2 linked regions of the Homo sapiens genome follow. The protein of the gene in region 2 interacts with the protein of the main gene of each other region in a pairwise test. Each region holds a gene or a part of one and is shown on either strand. Other genes may lie near its edges.

Region 1 (3,500 bases), about 52 Mb from region 2:
CCAACAAATCAGACAATGCTAAGTATTGGTGAGAATACAGAACAACCAGAACTGTCATACTGTGCAGTTGGGGATGTAACATGGTTCACCAACTTTGGAATACTATTTGGCAATATCACCTAAAGATGAAGACACATATATCCTACAACCTGGCAATTCTACTCTCAAAAGAAAGGCATAGATGTATCCACAAAACACATGCACAAAAATCATATGATTTTTCTCCATTTTTCTGTTAACGTGGTGAATTTATTGCCCTTCAGGCAGTAAATCTTCTCATATTGCTGAATTAGATCCTGTTTGGTGAATGGCAGCCATTCAATGTAAGACCAAAAAAGCTGACAGAATAGATTAAATTGTAGCATGTTCATACAATGAATGAATGAGAATGAAGCAATATAGATGATTCCCATAAACATAATACTGAGCGAATAAAATAAGACACCAAAGAATTCATACTGTATAATTCAACGTTAATACATTTCAAAAGGGGGCAAAACTCATCCCTGCTGTTAGAAGTCAGGGTTATGGTGGGCCTTGAGGAAACACGCATGGTGAGGGGGCGGCGGTCTTAGGCATGGGTGTACTCAGTTTGTGAAAATTCATCCAGTTTTATACTTGTGATTTGTGCCCTTTGTTGAATATATGCCCATATATGCCAAAACTGCAATTTAAAAGTTTACTTAAGAAAATTATACCGTCACACTACAAGTAACCTGCAATAGAAACTTCAGATTTATTCTTTTAAATATCTCCTTCTTCCACATTGACTTGCCATGGCCCTGTCCAATCTATTCCTCTACTGGCTGATGAGCTATGTGTGAACTGGGAACCATTTCTCTTTATATCACCTCCATGTTCTAGCACAGTACTTTGTACATGGTAGACCCTCAATAAATTGTGAATAAGTGCTCAACAGATTCTATCTATCTTTTGTTTCTTTCTTTACTTTGCCACTATCAATCACGGGGCTTTATTATTGCTATTTTAAAAAGTATTTGCCAATTTGCTTGGTGAAAACTGGTGTCTCATGCATATTTTAATTTGCATTTCTTTGATGATCGGTAAGATAAAATATTTTTTCATATGTTCAATGCTCATTTGTAGTTTTCCTCCTGTGAATGATCTCTTCATTCCCTTTACCCATTTTCCTCTTGGAGCTGTATTGATTCCTTACCATCTGTAGAATAAAATTACCCTCTCCCTTCCTACCTGACCACTAGCAGCAAAGGCTCATTCATTCTCTACTCCTGTCGTCACTATGTTCTCCATTGAGGAAAGGGGAATGAGCTCCTGTATTTTATACCAGGCAGGGAATAATGGGACCCTGAGCCAAGCAGCTACACACTTGCGAGATACTTAGAACTTAAAGTTAGACTCACATCCCTTATAATCAAATTTCAAAGAATATAAGACAACATGGCCCGACTCCTGCCATCATGACAACAGAGAAAATGGTGCCACCCACCTGTAGTGCAGGAAGACGGCTTTGCTGGTTGGGAATTACTTTTAATGAGATCATTCCTTTGGTTTCTTTCTATTAAAAAAAATGGACATAAAATTGTACAGAAAACTAAGTTGAATGATGTGATCATTCATTCAAAGTCCCAGGTTTTTTTCCCCAACAACCATCTTTACATTTTGAGATTTTGTAGGACAATTCCTCCTTTAATACAAAAGTGTCATGTGCCCCATAAATCAGCATAACAATATGAAGACATGCAAAGAGTAACAAAGAAAAGCTAACTAAAGACTTTTCCGAGCTGGGCACGGTGGCTCACGCCTGTTGTAATCCCAGCTCTTTGGGAGGCTGAGGTGGGCGCATCGTCTGAGGTCAGGAGTTCAAGACTAGCCTGGCCAACATGGTGAAACCCTGTCTCTACTAAAAATACAAAAATTAGCCAGCGTGATGGTGGGTACCTGTAATCCCAGCTACTTGGGAGGTTGAGGCAGGAGAATCGCTTGAACCCAGGAGGCGGAGGTTGCAGTGAGCCGAGATCACGCCATTGTACTCCAGCCTGGGTGACAGAGCGAAACTCCATCTCAAAAAAAAAAAAAAAAGACTTTTCTTCCCCATTCTTTACCCCAAAAAGTCCTGAAGAAGTTCCTAAAAATGAACTATGGCGCATATATATCCACGCCTTTCCCCATACCAACAAAAGCATTACAAATATTTACATACATTATGCATACATATGTATTGTTTGTTTTTAACAAAAATGGGATTCTACTATATACGTTATAGCTTGCTTTACTTCATTTGGCATTACTTCATGGAACACCAGATTGATGCTCTGGGTTATTTGCCCTGCTTTAGAATTTTACTAAATAAAGGCAGAAAATTATCATTTCTTACACAGATTAAAGACTAGCAGTGAAAAGAGCCCCCTCAAGAAGGTACAAATACTTTGACAGAGAGATGAGGTCACTGATACCAATGTGGATCAACACTTATGGAGACAATGGAAGGTCTTCATCTAGCATAGAAAATACCCACCATCGCCTTCTGCAGCTGATCCACTGAATGATTTGTCACATTTGTGCCATTGATTTCTAGGATCTCATCCCCCACGTGAAGGGAGCCTGCCATGAAATGAAAAATCAATCCACAAAAGAACAAAAGTTCAAACAGGAGCTGTCAATGTAACTCAAGATACCATAGAAGAGAAACCAGGATTTACAGCATGTTATGAAACAGATTGTGTCAAATACTCAGGATTGAAAACATTTGACTTGACAGTTTAAGATGGTCTCATCCTCCTTGGCCTCAGTAGTCCAACAGCACAATAAAACACCTTGTCCTCAAATTCCTGGAACTAGAGTGGCTACTGACTCCAGACTATGACACAGATGTATACACTAAAAAGAATAACAAAGCAAGGCAAAGAACTCAGTACTCCTCTTTCACCAGCAAGCTCCATGTTTCTTTGTTGTTTAGCTCAAACCCCAAAATGCTACCAAGTGGTACTGCTGTCCTTTCCAAGTCTAATGCAATGGGTGGCATGTGGCAATTGCTCAAATATTAACTTACTAGAAAAATATTGGTATAAATAGGTGTGAAAGAAGGCTCAGATAGGGAGATGGTGGCACTGGGCAATTCACATAGAGATCTTATCATGTACTGATTCTACAGAGCCAGTTATTAAGCCACAAAAAGTCTCTTGGCACACTCACAAAAATGCTACCAGTTTGGAGGATTATAAGCTTCATGCCCCACACCACTGAACAGGGAGTAAATTATTAATCCCTGAATCAAACCCCACCCAGAGCTCCCACAGAGTACCTTGTCTATGGATCATGCCACCATGAAGAATTCTGGCCACCGTACAGGACTGTTTTTCATTCAGCTTCAGCGTGATTCCCTGAAATAAAGGCGACGGCACAATAAGCTTTATTTTAAGCTCTTTCTGAGGTTATTTTAGAAAGAACTTACGGTAATTTCTCAGGAAAATATTTTCCATTTATACCCAGGATAGTCCTCAACTAGAACAGGCATGAAG
Region 2 (3,500 bases):
GATTGGAGTTCTGAGTATTTGGTTGACAGACCTACACTCTAATCTCTAAACCCAATTTCTGCCTTTCCAAATCTAGGGCTTTGGTTATATAACACTTCTGGCCTCCTAGTACTCCTTGTGGCTTATCTTCCCATTTCCTGCCCCAATATCTACCAATTACCTCATAGGCATAATCCTGGCTCACCCCACCCCATCACTTGTACACAAATGTGAGGTCAGAGGTGACTAGAAAGATGGAAGACAGTGGCACCAAGATATGATCTGGTCTAACCCACTTGGCAACAGCCTTTCCATAACCCCAATCAACGGGGGTGCTCACACATAAACCTACCTTGAATCCAAATGAATAGTTTTTGTTCTTTCTTAATTAACTTCCAAGTGAACAGCTACATACAGATCTCTACAGGAACCTAGAAAGAAACAGACCTAAGGATAGAAAGGAAGGCAGAGGAAAGAAAACAGAAGAGACTAAGATGATCTAATGCCTATAACAAGGATTATAACATATGCTTTTGAATATTCAAGGCTATGTTAAATGTCTCCCACCTGTCTGCTCTTCCTCAATGATTCCCTAATCACCCCAAGACCTGCAGCCTGATTACACCTCCTGCCAACTTTGAAGTCAGTCATTTTCCCAATAGAAGTTACAGCTCCTTTCCTGAACCAAAAAAAATGAGGTGCAGAAATAGGTAGTGGAACATAGGCAATTGTACTTACAAGGCAGGCAGGGAACATAATGGAGACTGTTATTTTAATACCATCTGTGCATGTCCTTCCCCTTCCCCATGCATACCTAGATCCTACTTTATTCACCACCTATGTCAGCCTGCTTATACAGCAGGAGTTCTCAGGAGATGCTATCCTTCCCACCAAAGAAGAGTCACGCCCTACAAAAAGAAGGCGGAGCAACTAGCAAAAAATAACCCCAAGAGACTATGTTAACAATGGTAGAAAAATAGCAGGTTAATGGACAGATTCCCAGAATTCGGATTCTAACACCTCCTTTTTGAGAATCAGAAACTAAGTAAATAAAGTCTCCCAACTCTCATAGCTCCTCAGATATCCACCATCAGAAATGCCATGAATTCTTCTGTGGGACTATTTCTGCACCAAAATGAGAGGGTCTGTGAGGAGTGGCTGGAGATGGAGTTTTGGTTTCCAGAACCATAAACTGAAGAAGCAGATTGACTTCAAATGTTCTAAATTGACCCTTCAAAAAGATTACCCCTCTACTCGGAACCCACATTCTCACACATCATTACATTACTTAAAGTGGATCAGCATGTTGAGAAAACAGATCCTGAACAAGAAAGGTGGAAAAATACTACCCTGTTATTTACATGGACCACTGTTGTGAAATTCGACTAAGTCCACACCCTATTTGCTTGCACAAAACTGGATGTGGGGATCTAAATATGTAAGGCAATAAAACAGTGCGGTATTATAAAAGGCGGTTAAACATTTCATTTTAGTGTCTTCATAATTCACCCACTCAAAGTTCCACTTTTGGAGAACCCAACAGACCTATCACGCAGACAGGAGACTTTAACAACCACCTGGAGCCTGTGGGAAGGGACAGCACCCAAGACACGGGGTCCCACAGGCCCCTTTCCGGAATCAGGGCCCCGAGTAGCGAACGCGGCCCACCTCTCGTGGGCTGGGCACAGAGCTGGGACGCCGGCTCCCCCCGGCCTTCCCGGGAGCCCCCCACAATGGCTCCCGCTCCGCCATTTCTCCCGCAGGAGCTCCCCCACAGCCCTTTCCGGGCACAGACACCGTCGAGGGCGGGGCGCCGGCGCCTGCAAAGCTGGCTTGGAGGCGGTCAGCGCGGTTCTCCTCCAGACGATCTGACGGTGCCTCTCAAGCCAGCCCCTCAGCCCTTGGCCTGGCTCGGCCTGCACCGGTCACCGCCTCCCCATCGCCAGGGGTCTCGAGCACTGCGCACCTCTCTCCGGCGACCGGCTCCGACCGGATCGTCTCCTCCTTGCCAGGATGTCAGGGTCGGCGGGGCAGGCTGCCAGCCGGTCCACCCTGGCGGACCACCCCAAGCTCACGCACCCCCACTTGCCTTCAGAGGCCCAGGGCCCAGGTCGTCGACCTCCCCCTCCTCTCCTCAGCTCTCCTCTGGCGGCTCCTCACTTCGATTCTCACCGCTTTCCCCGCTATCAGAATGGCAAAGACGCGTCCCGCCCCCCACGCCTCTGCACCAAACTGGGCAGGGGCTGCGCAGGATGCTGCAAGAACCGCTCTCTCCGCGAGGGTGTCGGGAAGGGGGGCGGAGGGATACGGCGCGAAAGTGCTCGACGCCCCCCTCTCAGGCCCACCTTAGTTCCGACCCAGAGGTGGGCGGGGCCATGACGAGCCCCAGCCTGGGCCTGCGGGTTGGCACCAGGCTGCCTCAGGAGGACCCCCGCGGACCCTAACGTGGCGACCACCACCACCACATTTCTGGCGTTGCTATAATATAGGGACGGGCGGGCGGCTGGGGACCCAGGCAGGGGACAGGATCAGGAGGTTGGGAAGAGCCGCGCTGGAGGGAGCAGCGGATGGATACCAAACCGCCCCTTGGTGTGTCTGCACCCCCGCCCCAACTCCCCAACCAGGGACTGCTGGGTGTCTGCCCCTTCCCTCTCCCCAGCCCTCTCACTCTCCTTCCTGGAAGCTAATGGGAGAGGGGGTGTCAGCAGTGCAGTCTGGGAGGGGTGAGGCGATTTCAGGCCAAACAAGCCTGGGCCTCTAGGGTGGTCCTCTTGTGCGTTTCTTTCCCAGCTTCATGGAGCCACGCAGGGGAGGAAGGTACACCTGCTCTTAAGTGAATTCTGGGGCAGGGGGCTCCCATCAAGGCCTCACCACTGCCCCTCTTCTAACAGAAGGTAGACCTAGACCTCTAACCCTAGGAAACCAACCACTGGTCTGTACCAGACTCATTTCTTTCTGCCACGCCGCTTTTTCTCATTTCAAATGGTGGCTCAGGTTGGCATTGCGCCGTCCCCACAGTTGACCCCAAAAGAGGGCCTTTCCCTGTCAGGACTCGCAGGAGGTCGTAACAGTCCTCTCTCTTTGATGGCACCAGGTAGGGATGGTCTTGGCGCCTCTCCACTGTTCTGGGAGGAGAGGGGACCACTATTCGCGCACTTCCTCGAGGCAGATCCCAGATTCCAGCTGCGCTCCTCAACTCCTCCTTTTCTCCCAGCCTTGCACCCTGCCTAATGCATGCATGTGCTTTTTTCTTCTGAATATATATATATTTTTTTACTCTCCCTTCCAAGCGATGGGGAGTTTGACTTGTTAGACTGGAAGTTTCCTGAATGAAAGTACCCTTTTGGTATTGTTCCCCACTGTATTCTCAGCACATTGTAGACGGTATAGTCAGTCAAGGGTTGAAGGAGGTGAGGGGCTACTGAATCATGACAATTCCATGGTACCCTCTGTGGTTTGCAGATCAATGCTAATTCATAGGTGTGTCTTTGCTGCCTGTAACCCCAGGGCTTAGCCCAGAG

What was found.
Region 1: the proteins of GPRASP3 (region 2) and MPP1 interact in binary tests that used the Homo sapiens proteins (3 or more experiments, as listed by UniProt).

Annotation. Positions count from the first base shown.
Region 1 is NC_000023.11:154,788,486-154,791,985, forward strand, and holds part of MPP1 (55 kDa erythrocyte membrane protein), read right to left. Parts: intron 3,363-3,500; coding exon 3,284-3,362; intron 2,584-3,283; coding exon 2,498-2,583; intron 1,538-2,497; coding exon 1,469-1,537; intron 1-1,468. UniProt on the Homo sapiens protein: Essential regulator of neutrophil polarity. Regulates neutrophil polarization by regulating AKT1 phosphorylation through a mechanism that is independent of PIK3CG activity.
Region 2 is NC_000023.11:102,744,743-102,748,242, reverse strand, and holds part of GPRASP3 (G protein-coupled receptor associated sorting protein 3), read right to left. Parts: intron 2,265-3,500; exon of another isoform or gene 2,069-2,264; intron 427-2,068; 5' UTR 332-426; intron 1-331. UniProt on the Homo sapiens protein: Survival and differentiation promoting protein that plays a role in the regulation of neurosynaptogenesis. Induces phosphatase PP2A activity which results in APP dephosphorylation and inhibits BACE1-mediated processing of APP.